Linked DNA regions of Homo sapiens. Changing the gene in region 1 together with any one later gene gives a genetic interaction. Each region holds a gene or a part of one and is shown in the gene's direction. Other genes may lie near its edges. The genes, in order: IL22RA2, STAT3 and SP1.

Region 1 (6,430 bases):
TGACTATATTTTGGGGAACAGGTTGGATGCAGATAAGTGAAGTAGCAGGTTACTAATAATAGTCTACAGGAGACCGAATTTGGCTTATGAAAAGGACTAGAGAAAATTTATTCCTGGAGGGACATTTAGTAAGCAACATTGGCAGGACCAGGTGATAGATCGGATATAATGGTGAAGAGGACATGTCAAAGATGACCTCTAAGTTTCTTGCATGCATAATTAGATGAATTGCTGAGATCTTTTTGATGGGGTTTGATGAAAAAGACCAGTTTGGTGGGATGCAAGGTAATAGAGATTATGAGTTTGGTTTTGAATATGTTAAGCTTAATATGCTTTTAAGAGATCCAGGGGACATATCTCTTCAGATCCAAGACTCAAAGTAAAGTCTTTATTAGAGACAAAAATTTGTGAGTCATTTCATGCATACAGTACAGTGGACATTGATAGGATTGCCTAGGGAGAGAGTAGTGAGTGAGAGGCAGTTTTGAGTAAGACCAGATATTGAGGGACTTTCACCCAAAGATGCCTGAGTAAGAAAAATCTTAAAAGGAGACTGAGAAGGAATAGCCAAAGAGGTAGGAGGAAATCTGTGGGCTGATATGTTCATGAATAGTGCGGGAAGGTAATATTTCAAGGAGAGAGCTGTTAAAGAGTAAAGTGCTATGAGGTCAAATAATCTTGACTTGGTCTTGTAACACAATCACAATCCAGTGAATGGGTCAAGAAACTTGCAACTGATTGCAAAACTGATTTTGCAATCAATTGCAAAATCTAGCATCACAGATCATAAGCCAGGAGCCCTGTGATGTCCGCAGCTGACTCACTGATAGGACAATGCCTGAAATATGTGCCTCACTACAAAAGGGACATGTTTATTTAAAGTTAACTATCCCATTATTCCAATATAGTTGGAAAGTGCTTTAAAAACTTATGGTTCCAAATTAAATAGCCTGGGAGTAGGAAACTCTCTTCTTCTAAAACACTTAGAAATTCTGGATAAAACACATTCTCCAAACTCCACAGAGGGGCAAAAATAAAAATAAAGGGAATCCTTGGGGGCCAAAACAAAGTAAACGGAAATCAAAGGGGAACCAGAAGACCAACACAGTGACTGCCCCAGCTGCCCTGAAGGCATTTGCTGGATGTGGTAACTAGACCCTAAGTGGTAACAGCCACTCCCAGGACAAAAGACAAGGTTTTAGGCCAGCACAAGGCAGGGAGTTAGAACTAATACCCCTACAAAAGTCTTAGAACCTCCAAGGGCTACACTGTCAATAAAAAGTCAGACTAGCCTGGATGTGGTGGCATGCACCTGTAATCTCAGCTACTCAGGAAGCTGAAGGAGAATCACTTGAGTACAGGAGTTTGAGCCCAGCCTGGGCAACATAATGAGATCCTGTCTCAAAAAAAAACCCAAAACCAACCAACCAAACAAACAAACAAAAGTCAGATTAAGAAAAGCCCTTCCAATAAACAGAGGAAAGTAATTTGTATGTTTCCATCTTTATTCTGCTAAGAATCTAACACTCCCTACATTTATAAAGGTTCGAGATTCAAATACATATGCAATTTTCTTTTTTATTTTTGTTTTTTGACATGGGTTTCACTATGCCACACAAGCTATAGTGCAGTGGCATGATCATAGCTCACTGCAGCCTCGGCCTCCCTGGGCTCAGGTGATCCTCCCACCATGCTGATTTGTCATTATACATAATGCGTCTGTATATAATACATTCCTTTGATGATTTGTCAAATTTTTATGTTTTTTCTTCAGCAAAAATAGATCCTCCAGTCATGAATATAACCCAAGTCAATGGCTCTTTGTTGGTAATTCTCCATGCTCCAAATTTACCATATAGATACCAAAAGGAAAAAAATGTATCTATAGAAGATTACTATGAACTACTATACCGAGTTTTTATAATTAACAATTCACTAGAAAAGGTAAGTTCAGATGAATAGATATATTTAGAGTTTTTTTCTTTTGTTTATTTAACCAATATTGTGGTCATATGAGATGTCCTCTTCTGCTACTCTGCCTCCTCTTACTTTTCCTTATCTTTAATTTCTTCTTACTCTCAGCCATCATTGATCAACGGTTGGTGGTGGCATCACCATCAGAATGTGTGTGTGCCCTTTCCATCCTCCGGTTTGTCTCTACAGTCTTCCCTGCATATCTAAAGATTGGTATTAACCGTATTTAATTGCATGTGACTGCCACAAATATTCATTTTTACGGGCTTTGCACACCTTATTTATTTATTTATTTATTTATTTATTTATTTATTTATTATGTATTTTATTTTTAGACCAGGTGTCACTCTGTCACCCAGGCTGGAGTACAGTGGTGATCATAGCTCACTGTAGCCTCTAACTTCTGGGCTTAAGTGGTCCTCCTTCTTCAGCCTCCTGAGTAGCTGGGACTAGAAGCATGCCCATCACATCCAGCTTTTTTTTTTTTTTTTTTTTTTTTTTTTTTGTAGAGGCAAGGTCTCACTATGTTGCCCAGGCTGGTCTCAAACTCCTGGCCTCAACCAATCCTCCAGCCTTGGCCTCCCAAAGTGCTGGGATTGCAGGCATAAGCCACCTCCCCGGCCTCACACCTTATTTTAAAATAGCTTTTGAATCACATGATTATTTTTGTGCCAGTTTTGCTGCGATTTTTTTTTTGAGACAGGGTCTGACTCTGTCACCCAGGCTGGGGTGCAGCAGTGCAATCACAGCTCACGGCAGCCTCAACATCCTGGGCTCAAATGATCCTCCCACCTCAGCCTCCCAAGTAGCTGGGACTACAGGTGCATGCCACCATGCCCAGCTATGTTTTTTTGTACTTTTAGTAGGGACAGGCTCTGGCCATGTTGCCCGGGCTGGTCTTAAACTCCTGGGATCAACTGATCTGCCTGCCTTGGCCTCCCAAACTGCTGGCATTACAAACATGAGCCACCAGGCCTGGCCTTGCAGTGGTATTCTAATCCACCATCGGTGCTTCTGTCTGGATTTGGTGGATAATTGAATTTGTTCCTTTTTTGGTGCCATCTAAGATGAGGGGTTTTTGTCGTAAGGAGCAGAAACCACAGTTTAACTTGTTTAGAAACAAAAGAGGAGGGGAGGGATAATTAGGAGATAGGCAAGCAATCTCAGGGACAGAGGCAGGACGTAGAGTGCCGGCAGCCTTAGTGGTGACTGGGAAGGGAAACGGAAGTGAGTTCTAAGGGATCCTGCTCTGTCTCTCAGACTTTCTGTCTCTATGTGGCCACAGTTTCATGCCTGCAGTTATCTCTGCTCATCTCGCTGCACATCATTCTCACTGCACACTTCAAATTCTTAAAAAGAAGGCCAGGTGGGGTGGTTCATGCCTGTAATCCCAGCACTTTGGGAGGCTGAGGCAGGCAAATCATTTGAGGTCAGGAGTTCAAGACCTGCCTGGTCAACATGGTGAAACTCCATCTCTACTGAAAATACAAAAATTAGCCAGGCGTGGTGGTATGCGTCTGCAATCCCAGCTACTCAGGAGGCTGAGGCACGAGAATCTCTTGAACCTGAGAGGCAGAGGTTGCAGTGAGCCGAGATGGTGACACTGCACTCCAGGCTGGATGATGGAGTGAAACTGTATCTCAAAAAACAAACAAAATTCTTAAAAACAAGACTCTGACCATGGGGTCAACCAGCCAACAGCCCTCAAGGAGAAGTCAAGTTGCACCTACACAGCCACTTGCCTTGTCCCTTTACCAGGCTATGGCCTAGGACTCTAGAAAAGAAGGATGTGTCTGGGAAGAAACCCCACAACCCATCTACTGCTGTGACCATGTACAACTTGTTAATTTAAACAAAAATGCAGCTGTGACTTAATGGCAGCCATTTACCAACTGATTATTTTCTCTCTCGTGTGTAGGAGCAAAAGGTTTATGAAGGGGCTCACAGAGCGGTTGAAATTGAAGCTCTAACACCACACTCCAGCTACTGTGTAGTGGCTGAAATATATCAGCCCATGTTAGACAGAAGAAGTCAGAGAAGTGAAGAGAGATGTGTGGAAATTCCATGACTTGTGGAATTTGGCATTCAGCAATGTGGAAATTCTAAAGCTCCCTGAGAACAGGATGACTCGTGTTTGAAGGATCTTATTTAAAATTGTTTTTGTATTTTCTTAAAGCAATATTCACTGTTACACCTTGGGGACTTCTTTGTTTATCCATTCTTTTATCCTTTATATTTCATTTGTAAACTATATTTGAACGACATTCCCCCCGAAAAATTGAAATGTAAAGATGAGGCAGAGAATAAAGTGTTCTATGAAATTCAGAACTTTATTTCTGAATGTAACATCCCTAATAACAACCTTCATTCTTCTAATACAGCAAAATAAAAATTTAACAACCAAGGAATAGTATTTAAGAAAATGTTGAAATAATTTTTTTAAAATAGCATTACAGACTGAGGCGGTCCTGAAGCAATGGTTTTTCACTCTCTTATTGAGCCAATTAAATTGACATTGCTTTGACAATTTAAAACTTCTATAAAGGTGAATATTTTTCATACATTTCTATTTTATATGAATATACTTTTTATATATTTATTATTATTAAATATTTCTACTTAATGAATCAAAATTTTGTTTTAAAGTCTACTTTATGTAAATAAGAACAGGTTTTGGGGAAAAAAATCTTATGATTTCTGGATTGATATCTGAATTAAAACTATCAACAACAAGGAAGTCTGCTCTGTACAATTGTCCCTCATTTAAAAGATATATTAAGCTTTTCTTTTCTGTTTGTTTTTGTTTTGTTTAGTTTTTAATCCTGTCTTAGAAGAACTTATCTTTATTCTCAAAATTAAATGTAATTTTTTTAGTGACAAAGAAGAAAGGAAACCTCATTACTCAATCCTTCTGGCCAAGAGTGTCTTGCTTGTGGCGCCTTCCTCATCTCTATATAGGAGGATCCCATGAATGATGGTTTATTGGGAACTGCTGGGGTCGACCCCATACAGAGAACTCAGCTTGAAGCTGGAAGCACACAGTGGGTAGCAGGAGAAGGACCGGTGTTGGTAGGTGCCTACAGAGACTATAGAGCTAGACAAAGCCCTCCAAACTGGCCCCTCCTGCTCACTGCCTCTCCTGAGTAGAAATCTGGTGACCTAAGGCTCAGTGTGGTCAACAGAAAGCTGCCTTCTTCACTTGAGGCTAAGTCTTCATATATGTTTAAGGTTGTCTTTCTAGTGAGGAGATACATATCAGAGAACATTTGTACAATTCCCCATGAAAATTGCTCCAAAGTTGATAACAATATAGTCGGTGCTTCTAGTTATATGCAAGTACTCAGTGATAAATGGATTAAAAAATATTCAGAAATGTATTGGGGGGTGGAGGAGAATAAGAGGCAGAGCAAGAGCTAGAGAATTGGTTTCCTTGCTTCCCTGTATGCTCAGAAAACATTGATTTGAGCATAGACGCAGAGACTGAAAAAAAAATTTACTTTGATCTCTGTTTTTGAATTCTTATTATTTATATTTTGCTTACTACCTTTTTTGCCTTTTGTCCTTTTGTGGAGAGGGCGATGAATTAAGAGTAGTGGGGTGGGTGGCGAGTAAGTAAAATTTCAAATAGCATTTTAGTGAATGCAATTCAGTAGTCCTGAAGCCTGACTTAATAAAACAAAATTCATTTATGGTTGTTTCATGAAAGTTATTAGATAGGATCAAGTTTTGTTTGTATATTGTTTGCCTTGCTCTGTTTTTGCTTTTGTGCTTAGGCAAGTGCAAAATACTCTATGGAAATCATAATTGTCATCTTCTTCATGGTGTTAGGGATATATTGTCACATGATTTCAATAAATCCTTTTTTTGCTTTACATTTTGGAATATTTGTTATTTGAGCTTTTAAAAGAAGAACACAATGTTTAAGTCTGCCAGATGAAATTCCAGTTAAACATCTTAGGCCCACACGAAGTTCCAGCCAGGAAGGAGCAAACAGTTTTGAGCCCGACTGAGCTTGCCCTGTGATCAAATGCAATCCCAGTCTTACAGCTGCTCAGGCCAAAAGCGTTGAGGTTATCTTTGTCTCCCCGCTTTCTTTCACATCATATATATTCAATGCACCAATAAATTCTATTGATCTACCTCCAAAATACAACACTTCTCAGAACTACCTATTCCAGGCCACCATCATTTCTCCTCTGGATGGTCACTATGGTTACCTCATTGGTGTCCCCGCTCTGCTTGCCTCCCTCCAGTTTTGTCTTAACAAGGTGGCCAGCATGAGCCTTGGAACATAAATCAGATCATGTCACTTTCCTGCTCTAAAACCGCCAATAGCTTCCCATCTCATAAGGGTAAAAACCAAAGTCTTTATAATGGCCTCCAAGGCGCTGTATGATCTGTTTCCTTTCCTCATAATCTCCCAGGCCTCACTCCCTAATTCTCACCTTCCTCACTC
Region 2 (7,974 bases), on another chromosome or scaffold:
GCCACCACGTCAGGCCTCAAGACTTATTTATTAATATTTAATTAATTCAGTCTTAGGTGAGCTCTAGGCTAGATGATAGATGCTGAGATTATGAAGACAGGGCTTAAGGGGTTCAAGTTTCCAGGAACCCACAGTTTAGGGGAAGATGTTTGTTAGCACGTGGCCAGAGAGTCAGCCAGACCTGATTTTCATTCTGAGTTTCCACCTAGTTTCTAGCTGTGAGACCAGTCTTGAGCCAGTCTTTCACTTTCTCAGTCTTCGTTTCCTCAATTGTAAAATAAGAATTATAATATTACCCTCACTGGGTTCTGGTGAGGATCAAATGAGATAATCTATGTAAAATGCTTAGCACAGTTCCTGGAATATAGTAGTAATTACTTAATCAATGTTAATTATTGTTTTTTTTCAGGAAGTAGGCCAATATGTGGATTTATTAGAATTCAAGGTAGAGAATGTATTCTAGATGGGGAAACAACCTGCCGAAGGAGTCTGGTAGGAGATTAACTTTGCCAGTAAGAATAGAAGGAAGCCTAGAGGAGGTGATGTTGCAACAGGGCTTTGAAGAATGAGTAAGAGTTCTCAGGTAGGGACTGAGGAAAGAGATTCCAGGTAGAAGGAAGACTATCCACAGAGGCATGAAGTTGCAGAAGGTGTAGACATGTTTGGAGGAAGGTAACACATTTAGTAGGGTTTGTGGGACTAGGTTAGAAAAGGGGGGATTCAGGTCAGCCTTTGTGGAATTTATCTTTTTTTTGAGACAGAGTCTCACTGTATTACCCAGGCTGGATTGCAATGGTGCAATCTTAGCTCACTGCAACCTTTGTCTCCTGGGTTCAAGCGATTCTTCTGCCTCACCCTACCGAGTACCTGGGATTACAGGTGCCCGCCAACACGCTTGGCTAATTTTTGTATTTTTAGTAGAGACAGACTTTCACCATGTTGGTCAGGCTGGTCTTGAACTCCTGACCTCAGGTGATCCACCCGCTTCGGCCTCTCAAAGTGCTGAGATTACAGGCGTGAGCCACTGTGCTGGGCCTGTAGGATTTTATGATTCAAATAAAGAGGGAGAAAGAAGGAACATCAATTGAGCTCCTACCACATGCATGGCACTGAATTATGGTGTTTTTTTCTTTTTTCTTTTTTTTTTTGAGACAGAGTCTCACTTTGTTGCCTGGGCTGGAGTGCAGTGGCATGATCTCGGCTCACTGCAACCTCTGCCTCCCGGGTTCAAACGATTCTCCTGCCTCAGCCTCCCAAGTAGCTGGGATTACAGGCACCCGCCACTATGCCCAGCTAATTTTTTTGTATTTTTAGTAGAGACGGGGTTTCATCATGTTGGCCAGGCTGGTCTCGAACTCCTGACCTCAGGATTCGCCCGCCTCGGCCTCCCAAAATGCTGGGATTACAGGCATGAGCCACCGCGCCCAGCCATGGCACTGAATTAAATGGTCAGCTTTTTGTTTATTGTTTGTTTTTGAGACAAGGTTGGTCTTGTTCTGTTGCTCAGACTACAGTACAGTAGAACAGTCATAGCTCACTGTAACTTCGAACTTCTTTCTAAGTTCAAGTGATCCTCCTGCCTCAGTCCTCAGAATAGCTGGGACTACAGGCATGCCACCACCACGCCCGGCTAATTTTTTGTAAAGTTGGTGTTTTGCCATGTTGCCCAGGCTGATCTCGAACTCCTGGCCTCAAATGATCTTCCTGCCTCGGTCTCCCAAAGCTTTAGGATTACAGGCATGAGCCACTGTGCCTGGTCAGCATTTTTAAAATTTAACTTGGATTGGCCGGACACGGTGGCTCCCAGCACTTTGGGAGGCTGAGGTGGGCGGATCACTTGAGGTCAGGAGTTCAAGACCAGCCTAGCCAACACAGTAAAACCCCGTCTCTACTAAAAATGCAAAAATTAGCTGGGCATGGTGGTGGGCACCTGTAGTCCCAGCTACTTGGGAAGCTGAGGCAGGAGAATTGCTTGAACCTGGGAGGCGGAGGTTGCAGTGACCCAGGATCATACCATCGCATTCCAGCCTAGGCGACAAGAGGAAACTCTGTCTCAAAAAAAAAAAAAAAAAAAAAAATTAACTTGGATTTTATCTTGCCGGTAGTAGGGAACCATAGAGATTTTTAAGCCGACTGTGACATGATTGAATTTTTTTTTTTTTTTTTTTTTGAGCCAGGGTCTTGCTCTATCGCCTAGGCTGGAGTGCAGTGGAGGGATCTGGGCTCACTGCAACCTCCACCTCCTGGGTTCAAGCAATTCTCCTGCCTTAGCCTCCTGAGTAGTTGGGACTACAGGCACGTGCCACCATGGCTAGCTAATTTTTACTTTTGTTTTGAGATGGAGTTTCGCTCTTGTTGTCCAGGCTAGAATGCAATGGCGCGATCTCGGCTCACTGCAACCTTCACCTCCCGGGTTCAAGAGATTCTCTTCCCTCAGCCTCCCGAGTAGCAGGGATTACAGGTGCAAGCCACCATGACTGGCTGATTTTTGTATTTTTAGTAGAGACAGGGTTTCATCATATTAGTCAGGCTGGTCTCGAACTCCTGACCTCAGGTGATCTGCCCGCCTCAGCCTCCTAAAGTGCTGGGATTACAGGCGTGAGCCACAGTGCCCAGCCTAATTTTTGTATTTTTAGTAGAGACGGGGTTTCACTGTGTTGGCCAGGCTGGTCTTGAACTGACCTTGTGATCCACCCGCCTTGGCCTGAATGTTTATTTATTTAATTTTTAGGATGATGTCCCTGGCAGCCAGTGGAAGAATAGGATAGAATAAGGAGAGAATAATCAGGTGGTTAAGGCAGTGGCCCAAGGGACAGAAATTGCAGCATTTAGCCAAGAGGAATTTGGCGGGGTTGTGGAGAAAGGCCAGTGTCTGGGCTGAAGAGAATTTTTGCAGGTCAAACCCATAGTCGCAGAGGTAGATTTTATGTGTTACTGGTGGGGAGGCCAATGAGGGAAACAGAGGCCAGCTCTTGAGAAGTCAGAAGCAGGGCAGGGTTTGAATGAATGGAACAAAGCTATGGGACGTAAAGCCCCCAAACCTGACTCTGAACCTGGTATATTTCTGAGTTTCTCTGTGATCTTGAAAATGTCATATTATGTTGTCTTTAGTTTTCTATCAGCGGATAATATGGCCTCTCCTATCTGCTATTCATGATTGTGAGAAAGAAACCAGGCAGGGAGTGTATAAGGTGTGTAAGTCCTTTGTAAGCAGTAAATCACTAAACAAATCCTAGACCCTATGTTATCAGGGAGGCAGTTGGCCGCACGGGATAGCGTAGTTACAAGAGACTATAGGCGGAGATGGGGGATATCTGTCCTGTGGTGTAGATAAACAGCCTAATCAATACACACACACTCTACAGGTAAATACAGCAATTTCCATACTGAGCTGTGTCTACCAGAGGGCAATAGGAGGTTCTCAATTCTCACCACCAGTGACCCTATGAATTGCCCTGTAGATGCCTCTGTCCCTCATTGGATATGAGGTGGTACGAGCGGTCTGAATCTGTAGACTTAGACAGGCTTCAGGTATCTGGGGAACCATGTGAGTAAAACCTTGTATTGTTTCTGGGGCTAGAATCTAGTCTCCTTCAAACACTCAGAAGGATCTGTGACTGCCTTCAAAGGTTAAGAGTCATTGATTTTTCTCACTAGAAATTAATAAGAACAGCTATCCTTGGGGAGAAGGAATGATGGGGGTAGGGAAAGATTTTCATTTAATATTTTTGACCTTTCTGAACGGTCTGCATTTTCTAAACAGGAACATGTATTAGGTTCATTGAAAAAAAATATGTCAGGGGTTAGCTGAGCAGTGAGATAATGGGTCCTTTTTAGATTTTTGTCTTTATACCTGTTCGTATTAAACAAACACAAATATTAATAACATATTTTTAAAGACCCAAAAAAATAAAAATTAAAAACCCTGATAGTATCAGCACATACACAGAAATCACTCCATTATGCAAAGTTCATCCTCTATTATGAAAGGCAAAATGTCTACATTTCCTATCAACCACTGGCTTCAATTCAGTAAAACTTGCATACCAAGTAGGCAAGGTGGAAAAGAAAAAGGCAGAACATTTCATGTATTTCAATTCAGACGCATAAAAATGTCAAGCCCTACACGTTATCAGCTTTCGTATACACCGTCTTCTGCATTCGCCTGTACGGGCCAATGGGCTAGCTGGTCGGCGTTTGATGCTTGAAGTGATGGAACGGAGTACGGGGTTAAATCCACTACCCTCTCCCCACGCACTCTAGTAATTACTCTATTTCCACGTCATGTTTCCGGGTGTGTGTGTCCCTGCTCACGCAGAAACTGAAGTTCAAAGCAGGCGGAGTCACCCATGTTCTTTTTGTTGTCCCCAGAACCCAATTCAGGAGTTGGGTCCCCAGAGGATCTGGAGATACCTGGGGACTATCTAACTAGCTGATTCCCGCGTGGTAAGAGGCTCTCAACCTCGCCACCACGTGGTGCCAAGGGCCGGGAAAAGGGAGAGCGGGCAGGAGGGAGCTGTATCAGGGGCATTTAAAGTGCCTTGACGTCACGCACTGCCAGGAACTCAGCTGAGTTTTCAGCAGGACATTCCGGTCATCTTCCCTCCCTCCCCCCGGGCTTCTGTGCCCAAGTCCTCGGCTCTTCCCTCGCTGTGGCGGAGGGAGGAGCACCGAACTGTCGGAACAGCCAGCACAGGGGCGTATCAGTCTCCTCTTGGCTCCGCCCTTTCTCCTAGCTGCTCTCCTCATTGGTCAGTGGGCGGGGCTTCGGCTGTACCGCACACGCACTGGGACCTCTGGGTGGCCGAACGAGCTGGCCTTTCATGAATTATGCATGACGGCGTGCCTCGGCCAGGCTGGGGCTGGGCGAGGATTGGCTGAAGGGGCTGTAATTCAGCGGTTTCCGGAGCTGCGGCGGCGCAGACTGGGAGGGGGAGCCGGGGGTTCCGACGTCGCAGCCGAGGGAACAAGCCCCAACCGGATCCTGGACAGGCACCCCGGCTTGGCGCTGTCTCTCCCCCTCGGCTCGGAGAGGCCCTTCGGCCTGAGGGAGCCTCGCCGCCCGTCCCCGGCACACGCGCAGCCCCGGCCTCTCGGCCTCTGCCGGAGAAACAGGTGAAGGGGGTGCAGGGTGGGGCCGTTGGGGAGGCCTGGGGACCCGGGGGCTCCGCAGCGGCAGGGGGCCTCTGGGACCTTGGGGATGTTGTGATGGACGCTGCAGTGGGGCCGGGAGAGATGAAGAGACGCGGAGGGTCGCCCTGAGGGAAGACTCTTCGGGATGACAGGAGCGGGCCTCGGAAGGGACTCGGGGCGCTGGAGGGAAGTTTCGTTCTTCGGAGAAACAGAACGCGCTCGAGGGGGCACCGTGGGGCGAGGGCGCACTCGGTTGCGGCGGCAGGAGTGAGGGACAGTCCCCCGATTTCCTGCTCCCTGGGGCCCTGGGGACGTTCCGGCCACCGGAGCGACTGTCACGCCGACGGGGATCACCGGCGCGAGTGGGGGGTCGGAAAGCGCCTCCTCCCCGCCCGGTCGGCGGCTCCCGCTGAGCCACTTCCTCCGCTTGCCCTGTTCCCGCTCCTTCAGGAGACAGCTGTGCCCTTTTGGAGGCAGGAATAGGTGTGTCTGTCGCCTGCAGCCTTACGGGCTGGCTGGTCGTGGGTAGGCTTTATTGCATAAGAATCAAGTTTCCTGTAGGGAAATTGACAGACCGGTACTCTTTCTAAATTCCCTCGCATCTTTTTCTAGGTTAAATTATGCTCCCCCCACGTCCCCGCCTTGTAAAAAAGAGAAAAAAAGACAAAATAAAATCCCCATCAACCCGTCAAGCCAGCTCTAGAGAGAGAAATAAACCTCTTGACATTGTCCTTTTCCAAATACCTGGTAAAGTCGGCCAGAAGATAAATAATTGAGCCATTGCATTTACTGGATTGTGGTGTTGCTTAATTGCATAGGACGGAATGAACCAATTGAGAGTGGGAGTTTTCTGTCTCAGAGCCAAGATCTTGGGTAAATGCAGAGGAGAGGGAAACAAAGACAGGCTGGCCTTGAAAAAACCATGTGTGCAAACTTTACATGCATTTGGGGGGTGTGGTTGCACTGAAGTTAACAAGATTCAAACCGTCGCCCAAGTTGGTATTTCCATGTTTGGTACACATCACTCTGTGCCATATCAGGTCGTTGTTAAGTGTGGTGACAAAATCAGTGGTTAGTCATTTTTTTAATTAAAAATGTGTATAGTGTGTACCTGCTGGTCTTACTGTATGTGCAACTAAAGGTTTACATAGTCTGTGTATGGGTTGTAAATTTTTGGCTGGCTGTGCTGATAAAGCATTGGGCTTGAATAAAGCAAAGCAGAAAATCATCTCAATCTTTTATATGTGGATTTAGACTGTGTTATGACTTGGTTCAGCCAGTTTTCTATCTTATTTTATATTAAATATGTCTGTGTTCTCTGAGTCAGCACATTTATTTCCTTATTACATGTTCCAGACAGGAGTGCTAGCCCAGTTTTTGTTCAGTTTGCACAGTGGGATGGGGAAACAAGTCTGGAATTTAAAAAAAAATGTTTTAGAGGTTGGAGCCTTGATTTTAGTCTCTATATTAGCACATCCATCACAAAGAACCATTAGTAAATTCATGAATCTTTTGTTTTTTATGTAGTTCATTTGAGAAGAATAATCACTTAGAAATATCCACAGTGCCAGGCATGGTGGTGCACACCTCTGATCCCAGCTAATTGAAGGCTGAGGTGGGAGGATTCCTTGAGTCCAGGAGTTGAGTCTGGTCTGGGCAACATGGTGAGAGGCCAGGAATTGGGTCTAGAGTCTAGTCTAAGCACCATAATGAGAACCCATCTTTAAGAAAGAAAGAAAGGAAAGGAGGAAGAAAGGAAAGAAAAAGAAATACCCACAGCACAGTTATGAATTAACCCACAAAGGACTTGTGAGGTGGGTAGTTCACATAACAATTACCCTAATATCGTAGATAAGAAAATTGAGGCCAAAGGATCAAGACACTTGGCCAACGCAGCAGAGTGCCATAGTGGTGGAATTTGTGCCTCCTTCTGTATATTTTGTGAAAAGTATCAGTGAAATTCTTTTTTTTTTTTTTTTTGAGTCAGAGTCTTGCTCTGTTGCCCAGGCTAGAGTGCAGTGGCGCAATCTTGGCTCACTGCAACCTCTGCCTCCTGGGTTCAAGCGATTCTCCTGCCTCAGCCTCCCAAGTAGCTGGGACTACAGGCGTGCGCCACCACGCCCAGCTAATTTTTGTATTTTTAGTAGAGACCGGGGTTTTACCATATTGGCCAGGCTGGTCTTGAACTCCTGACCTTGTGATTTGCCCACCTCTATCTCCCAAAGTGCTGGGATTACAGGTGTGAGCCACCGCGCCCAGTAAGTATCAGTGAAATTCTAACATATATCTGAACAGTAAAATACCACCAATAGGCTGAAAGACTTCATGGGAGGTAAATATTCAATAAACAGGTGAAAAAAGAAATACAAATGGAGCTTGCTTAGATTATTTTTCTAATTGCTATGTCTAACTTGGGAAGTGAGGAACTGTTTTTGGTCAGCATAATTTACCATCAGAATTTAGCTATTTACTAATGAAAAGAAATACTAATCTAGGTTTGTTTTAGATTAAGGACAGTCATGACCTAAATGTCATTTAAACCAGAGTGCATTGTGGCTTGATCAGTGGTCATTTCTGTCTCTAGAAAGTTGCTTTAACTTCTCTGCCTCTACGTGTCTCTTGACATTCAGATATGAGGTGGGGTAGAGGTGGTGACCAACTTTCCAGACGCCTGAGTCCAAACCTTCTTAGCTTATGGTTTTCTTAGGTGATGTGCAAATCAACAAATATATACTTTTTTTTTTTTTTTTTTGAGTTGGAGTTGCACTCTATCACCCAGGCTGGAGTGCAGTGGCATGATCGTGGCTCACTGCAACCTCCTCCTCCCGGGTTCAAGTGATT
Region 3 (7,878 bases), on another chromosome or scaffold:
GCGCCTGTAGTCCCAGCTACTTGGGAGGCTGAGGCAGGAGAATCGCTTGAGCCCAGGAGGCGGAGGTTGCAGTGAGCCAAGATCACGCCACTGCACTCCAGCCTGGCAACAGAGCGAGACCCTGTACCCCCAACAAAAAAAAATGGTTGGGCCCGGTGGCTCATGCCTGTAATCCCAGCACTTTGGGAGGCCGAGGTGGGCGGATCACGAGGTCAAGAAATCGAGACCATCCTGGCTAACATGGTGAAACCCCGTCTCTACTAAAAATACAAAAAATTAGCCAGGCGTGGTGATGGGTGCCTGTAGTCCCAGCTACTCAGTAGGCTGAAGCAGGAGAATAGCGTGAACCCGGGAGGCAGAGCTTGCAGTGAGCCGAGATCGCGCCACTGCACTCCAGTGTGGGCCATAGAGCGAGACTCTGTATAGAAAAAAAAAAGATACGAATTTTAAGCAGGGCATGGTGGCTCGTGCTTGTAATCCCAGCACTTTGGGATTGAGCTCAGGAGTTCAACACCAACTGGGCCACATAATGAGATCTCAACAAAACATCAAAAAGTTAACCAGGTAGCCAGGTGCAGTGCCTCACACCTGTAATCGCAGCACTTTGGGAGGCTGAGGCGGGCAGATCAACTCAGGTCAGGAGTTCAAGATCAGCCTGGCTAACATGGTGAAACCCTGTCTCTACTAAAAATACAAAAATTAGCCAGGCATGGTGGCACATGTCTGTAGTCCCAGCTACAAGGGACGCTGAGGCAGAAAGAATTGCTTCAATCTGAAAGGCAGAGGTTGCAGTGAGCCAAAGTCGCGCCACTGCACTCCAGCCTGGGAAACAGGGCAAGACTCCGTCTCAGGAAAAAAAAAAATTGCCGGGCGCAGTGGCTCACACCTGTAATCCCAGCACTTTGGGAGGCCGAGGTGGGCAGAGGATCACCTGAGGTCAGGAGTTTGAGATCAGCCTGGCCAACATGATGAAATCTCATCTCTACTAAGATACAAAAATTAGCCAGGCATAGTGGCGTGCACCTGTAATCCTAGCTACTTGGGAGGCTGAGGCAGGAGAATCACTTGAACCTGGGCGGCAGAGGTTGCAGTGAGCTGAGATCGCACCACTGCACTCCAGGCTTGGAGACAGAGTGAGACTCTCAAAAAAAAAAAAGAAAAGATAGACACTGCGTGTGTGCATGTAAGGGATCTGAATAGCCTTGATATAAGTTGGTTTTTTTGTTTTTGTTTTTTTTTTTCAGTCTAAAGAACACTTTTTCAGGTTTTTACAGAGCAATTGGACAAGATGGATCATGTCATTCATTTGCTCTCAGGGACTATCAATAAACTAGTATACGTCTAGGGCATTCCTCACTGGCCTCATGCTGAATTGTCTTCTTCTGGAGGAGCAAAGGGGAAAGGATTGTAAAAAGGATGATGGCTATTGAATTTCTGAATTTAGGTCTTTTTGTCAGTTTAATTTTATCCTAATTCCCAATTCGGGTGTAGTCTAGGACTATGGAAAAAACACAGGCTTTGGAACTAAACAGAACAGTCATAATTTAACTAAAATATCTGAGCCTCAGTTTTCTCATCTGTAAAAGGGGACAACTATCTCTTAAATTGGTAGGAATAATTAAATTAGATAAATATGTGAAATGTTTAGAATACTCCTCCACGGTGTTAAGTTTCCTCTCCCTACCTCCACCCCTAAGCAAGTTTAGGTATGGACAGTTGCTGAATGGACTAAACAGCTATTAGAATCTTCAGAGCTTGGTTTACAAAGATGAGTAATGCAGTTTCTTCCTTCCAGGAAATTTCTCCCTTTCTGGAAGTTTCTTTTCCCCAGTTTCTTCTCTTGGTGTTTTTGTTTTGTTTTGTTTTCTTTTCTTTTCTTTGAGACCAAATCTTGCTCTGTCGCCCAGGCTGGAGTGCAGTGGCATGATCCCCGGTCACTGCAACCTCCGCCTCTAGGTTCAAGCGATTTTCCTGCTTCAGCCTTCCGAGTAGCTGGGACTATAGGCATGCACCACCACGCCCGACTAATTTTTGTATTTTTAGTAGAGATGGGGTTTCACCATGTTGGTCAGGCTGGTCTCGAACTCCTGACCTCCAGTGATCTGCCCGCCTCTGCCTGCCAAAATGCTGGGATTACAGGCATGAGCCACTGCGCCCAGCCTTCTTGGTGTGTTTTAAACTAGGTTTAGGGCCTAATCACTTGAAAGAGCTACTTAAAAATAGGTTTAGGGTGGAAATCTAGGAATCTGCCTTTTTTGAAAAAAGAACCCAGAGGATTCTGAGAGTGTGTGACATTTCATTTTGAGAAACCTTGATACAGTGAGAGATGAAATTAATTGTCATGTATTCTGATAAATTTTATAATAAAGGTATCTAAGAGGATGATGCCATTTGATCCGTCCTGGGAGTAGGCTTTTTTTTTTTTTTTTCAGGAGCTAGACAGTAAAAATTAAAAAGCATCTATATATTTACTTTTTTTTTTTTCTTTGAGATGGAGTTTCACTGTCGTTGCCCAGGCCCGAGTGCAATGGCACGATCTTGGCTCACTACAACTTCTGCCTCCTGGATTCAAGCGATTCTCCTGCCTCAGCCTCCCAAGTGGCTGGGATTACAGACATGTCCCACCATGCCTGGCTAGTTTTATATTTTTAGTAGAGACGGGGTTTCTCCATGTTGGTCAAGCTGGTCTTGAACTCCTGACCTCAGGTGATCCGCCTGCCTCGGCCTCCCAAAATGCTGGGATTACAGGCATGAGCCACCGCGCCCAGTCTATATATTTACTTATTTTGGAGCAAGGTCTTGCTTTGTTGTCCTGGCTGGAGTGCAGTGGCAGGATTTGAGCTCACTGCAGCCTCAACCTCCTGGGTTCAAGCGATTCTTCCACCCCAGCCTCCCGAGTAGCTGGGACTACTGGCGCACATCACCACGTCTGGCTAATTTTTGTTATTTTTTGTGGAGACGGGGTTTCACCATGTTGCCCAGGCTGGTCTTTAACTCCTGGGCTCAAGCGATCCGCCCGCCTCGGCCTCCCATAGTGCTGGGATTACAGGTCTGAGCCATTGCGCCCGGCGGCAGTTTAATTCCCTCAAGAATTTATAGAAAACTTTTGGTGGAACTATTCTGGGTTGGAATCTAACACTACAACTCATTTGCTTTGTGACCTTGGGTAAGTCACTTCTCAGCCTAAATGTCTTCACTTATAAAATACATAATATAGCTGATACTTAATAAAATCTTCCTTTTAAGGATGACATGGAATACTAACTGCCTCCCTGACTTAGGCACCTAACACGGTAGGCAGTCAGCAATCACTTCACCTTTTTACCTGTTTAAAGCAGCAGAGGCCTCAGTTCTTACCTTCAAAGGGCTTAAAATAGTTTAGGAGAATTCACATTTTAAAACATAAGAACATATAAGCAGGTGACAACATATAAGATACAAATACTGAAGGACATGACCTCATCGTGTCATTGACAAGCTATTAAGGCCGGCTCCACCAAAACACGGATAAAGAGGAGGCCAGAAATCCAGGTGCCTGCAGTAAAGTTTCTTAACCTTCGTGATTGCAAAAAGCTGGAGCTCAGCTATCTTGCTTTATGCATAGGCGGTATTTACTATTAAGGGGGAAAAAATGGAAGTGACTTATCCGCACTTTAGCCTCAAGGCTTGAAAAGTTAACCAGTCGTTTAAGTGGTTAGCGCCTTTGTCTGGGGGAACTTAATAAAATCGCGTTTTCTGGAGTCTCACGGAGACTCTGCATATTGGTCAGCTCAGTATTAACTTATTCGGTGAGTGCTGTCACCAGATCTCGTCCCGCCTGCATTCCCAGGGCTTGCAGCGACATTGAGGCATCTGCCCGCCTGTCCGACCACCCGGGAGGGGGGTAAGATTTGAGAGGTACTTTATAGGGGCAGTTAAATGAAGACGCAAACAAGTCCTAGTGTTGATGCGGAACTGCGCGCCGAATGCCTTGGCTCTGACACCTGTTGAGCTGCAGGACTCCGCTAAAGCGTCCCACCTAATGACTGTAACAACGTCCCCTGAGGAGGGCCAATATGGCGACGGTCTCCTCTTGGCATAGCCCTCTTCCCTCCCTCATGATGGGCAGCTCCAGTAACGCCCATTGGCTAACTAGGAGGCGGTGCCAGGCCTACTTCGTCCCCTCATTGGATTGAATAACTGAGGGAGCCGCCAATTCTCCTCTGCCACTCCAAGTTTCCGCCCTCAGTTAATTCGGCGTTTAATTGGCTTTTAGTTCACGTCAATATGCGTCCTTTCCTGTCTCTTTTCAGTCTAACTCCAATCATAACGTTCCTGGCTGCCCGCCTGATTTCTGATTGGTTTTAATCAGCTTCATCCTCTCCTATTCCTGCCTACTTCTTACCTCTCCGCCCACTAGGATTTTGCCCAAGCATATCCCGGATTCTGGTTGGCCGTTGTTCTGTCATTCCTATCAAAGCTTTGCCTATCCCTACGTCTCAGGGAGCCCGCCTGCCGGTTGACTGGTTTCCTTCCAAGCCAATCATCTCCAGCTCCCGCCCATCTTCACTTCCTGCATCCTTCATTGGCTTTTAACACTGAGAGGGCGGTCTTTTTAGGCGGACACCAGGCACGCAACTTAGTCTCACACGCCTTGGAGAGCAAGCGAGTCTTGCCATTGGATAATTCCACCGTCTTTCTTCTGCAAGTCCCTCCTTTCCCCCTCCCTCATTGGGCGGGGCAGCAGAGAAGGGGCGGGGCCTAGGTTGGGCTTGTGGCGCGCTGCTCCCTCCTCCTTACCCCCCCCTCCCTGTCCGGTCCGGGTTCGCTTGCCTCGTCAGCGTCCGCGTTTTTCCCGGCCCCCCCCAACCCCCCCGGACAGGACCCCCTTGAGCTTGTCCCTCAGCTGCCACCATGAGCGGTAAGGATGAGTCCACTCCAAGCTTAGGGGTGGGAGGCGAGTGAGGGGGCGCGCGCGAGGGCCGACCGGGCGATCCCCGCCGTGAAGCGGGGGCGGGCGGGAGGCGGCGGCGGCGGCGGCCTAGGTCCCGCCCGGGGCGGAGGGAAGGGAGGGAGACGGGGCAGTGGCGGGGCCTCCGAGGAGGAGGGGGATGGGCCGCCCGCCCCGGGGGAGGGGGCAGCGTGGCCTCGCCCGCCCCCTGCCCGCCCCGGCCACGGGGGACGGGCCTTACCCCCCACTACTCGGCCGCCCGCCTGAGGCTCCTCCCGCCGGGGGCTGGAGCCGCGGGGGCGGCCCGAGCAGCGAAGGCCCCGCCCGGGCCAACCGCCTGCCTGGTCCGCCCTCTGGTCGCCGCCTGCTCCAAGGCCCTCCTCCCCCCACTTTCCGTAGATTTCCCTTCCCCCCCGCCCCCCACCGTCCCGCCCTTTCCACGCCCCTCACCCCGAAACCGCCCTTTCCCTCAGGGCCCGCCCTCCGCCCCGAAACCTTCTGACTACTAACCTGTAGATCCCTTTAGTTCCTTAGCAGTATTCACAAATGTTTTTCTACTCACACTTTTTACTTCTTTTTCCCCTCTCGTTACTTTTCACACTTGGATTTTTGTTTGTCTTTTTTTTTTTTTTTTTTTTTGAGACGGAGTTTTCGCTCTTGTTACCCAGACTGGAATGCAATGGTGCGATCTCGGCTCACTGCAACCTCTGCCTCCCGGATTCAGGCGATTCTCCTGCCTCAGCCTCCGGGAGTAGCTGGAATTACAGGCATGCGCCACCACACCCGGCTAATTTTGTATTTTTAGTAGAGACAGGGTTTCTCCATGTTGGTCAGGCTGGTCTCAAAACTCCCGACCCCAGGTGATCTGCCTGCCTCCGCCTCCCAAAGTAATGGGATTACAGGCGTGACCACCGCGCCTGGCCTCTCCATCTCTTTTAAACTTAATTTTAGCAAGCTTTCCATGCACCCACATGTTGTTTTATGCCTTACCTGTCCTTTTCCTTTTTTTCCCTTAGGATACTTTTTCTTATTTAGAAACTCTCACCATGCCTACCGTCCTTCACATTTCCTATCCCCAAAGCACTTTTTGAATGTTTTCTTAGTTTAATTTTGTACAAGGGAGAATTAAGGCCCACTTTTGGCACATTGAACCTAGTTCATGTCCTGCATGCCCTGCAGCTCCCCTCTGCCCTCCAATCCATTTTCTTTATACTGGTGGCTTTCGCCTTCCTGTTAGTCATTGCTATTTCATCATAGCCTCCTTTTATCCTTCCTACTTCATTTCTTTTCTTCCCTCAAGTTTACGTTGTTTGTTTTTTAATTATTTTAGACCAAGATCACTCCATGGATGAAATGACAGCTGTGGTGAAAATTGAAAAAGGAGTTGGTGGCAATAATGGGGGCAATGGTAATGGTGGTGGTGCCTTTTCACAGGCTCGAAGTAGCAGCACAGGCAGTAGCAGCAGCACTGGAGGAGGAGGGCAGGTAAGTGATAATCATAGAGTGGGGAAGGTGTTGAGAAGATGTAAATATTCTTAGATAATTGCCTTACTCTTCACAGAAAGCGTTTTAGGGAGAGACTAAACCATTTTATAGATAAGGAAGTAAGAGAATGGAGATCCCCAAAGACAAAGGAGTTTCAGCAATACAGATAGGTCAGCTTTTTGTTTCTGTTTTTTGCTCCTTGTCTGCACTACGTTGCTGTTTATTTGTTGTATACTGCCCCCTAGGCTGGCAGCTGGGTGTCACTAACTCCTTTCCTCTCCCTTATTTTCGGCCAGGAGTCCCAGCCATCCCCTTTGGCTCTGCTGGCAGCAACTTGCAGCAGAATTGAGTCACCCAATGAGAACAGCAACAACTCCCAGGGCCCGAGTCAGTCAGGGGGAACAGGTGAGCTTGACCTCACAGCCACACAACTTTCACAGGGTGCCAATGGCTGGCAGATCATCTCTTCCTCCTCTGGGGCTACCCCTACCTCAAAGGAACAGAGTGGCAGCAGTACCAATGGCAGCAATGGCAGTGAGTCTTCCAAGAATCGCACAGTCTCTGGTGGGCAGTATGTTGTGGCTGCCGCTCCCAACTTACAGAACCAGCAAGTTCTGACAGGACTACCTGGAGTGATGCCTAATATTCAGTATCAAGTAATCCCACAGTTCCAGACCGTTGATGGGCAACAGCTGCAGTTTGCTGCCACTGGGGCCCAAGTGCAGCAGGATGGTTCTGGTCAAATACAGATCATACCAGGTGCAAACCAACAGATTATCACAAATCGAGGAAGTGGAGGCAACATCATTGCTGCTATGCCAAACCTACTCCAGCAGGCTGTCCCCCTCCAAGGCCTGGCTAATAATGTACTCTCAGGACAGACTCAGTATGTGACCAATGTACCAGTGGCCCTGAATGGGAACATCACCTTGCTACCTGTCAACAGCGTTTCTGCAGCTACCTTGACTCCCAGCTCTCAGGCAGTCACGATCAGCAGCTCTGGGTCCCAGGAGAGTGGCTCACAGCCTGTCACCTCAGGGACTACCATCAGTTCTGCCAGCTTGGTATCATCACAAGCCAGTTCCAGCTCCTTTTTCACCAATGCCAATAGCTACTCAACTACTACTACCACCAGCAACATGGGAATTATGAACTTTACTACCAGTGGATCATCAGGGACCAACTCTCAAGGCCAGACACCCCAGAGGGTCAGTGGGCTACAGGGGTCTGATGCTCTGAACATCCAGCAAAACCAGACATCTGGAGGCTCATTGCAAGCAGGCCAGCAAAAAGAAGGAGAGCAAAACCAGCAGACACAGCAGCAACAAATTCTTATCCAGCCTCAGCTAGTTCAAGGGGGACAGGCCCTCCAGGCCCTCCAAGCAGCACCATTGTCAGGGCAGACCTTTACAACTCAAGCCATCTCCCAGGAAACCCTCCAGAACCTCCAGCTTCAGGCTGTT

What was found.
Region 2: changes in IL22RA2 (region 1) and STAT3 together harm fitness more than expected from each alone (negative genetic interaction), as found in Homo sapiens cells (one study listed by BioGRID).
Region 3: changes in IL22RA2 (region 1) and SP1 together harm fitness less than expected from each alone (positive genetic interaction), as found in Homo sapiens cells (one study listed by BioGRID).

What each region holds. Positions count from the first base shown.
Region 1 is NC_000006.12:137,143,236-137,149,665, reverse strand, and holds the end of IL22RA2 (interleukin-22 receptor subunit alpha-2 isoform 1 precursor), read left to right. Parts: intron 1-1,774; coding exon 1,775-1,944; intron 1,945-3,892; coding exon 3,893-4,042; 3' UTR 4,043-5,846; downstream 5,847-6,430. UniProt on the Homo sapiens protein: Isoform 2 is a receptor for IL22. Binds to IL22, prevents interaction with the functional IL-22R complex and blocks the activity of IL22 (in vitro). May play an important role as an IL22 antagonist in the regulation of inflammatory responses.
Region 2 is NC_000017.11:42,385,420-42,393,393, reverse strand, and holds the start of STAT3 (signal transducer and activator of transcription 3), read left to right. Parts: upstream 1-4,951; 5' UTR 4,952-5,115; intron 5,116-7,974. UniProt on the Homo sapiens protein: Signal transducer and transcription activator that mediates cellular responses to interleukins, KITLG/SCF, LEP and other growth factors. Once activated, recruits coactivators, such as NCOA1 or MED1, to the promoter region of the target gene.
Region 3 is NC_000012.12:53,375,399-53,383,276, forward strand, and holds the start of SP1 (transcription factor Sp1), read left to right. Parts: upstream 1-4,777; 5' UTR 4,778-4,893; coding exon 4,894-4,900; intron 4,901-5,245; exon of another isoform or gene 5,246-5,286; intron 5,287-6,260; coding exon 6,261-6,415; intron 6,416-6,711; coding exon 6,712-7,878. UniProt on the Homo sapiens protein: Transcription factor that can activate or repress transcription in response to physiological and pathological stimuli.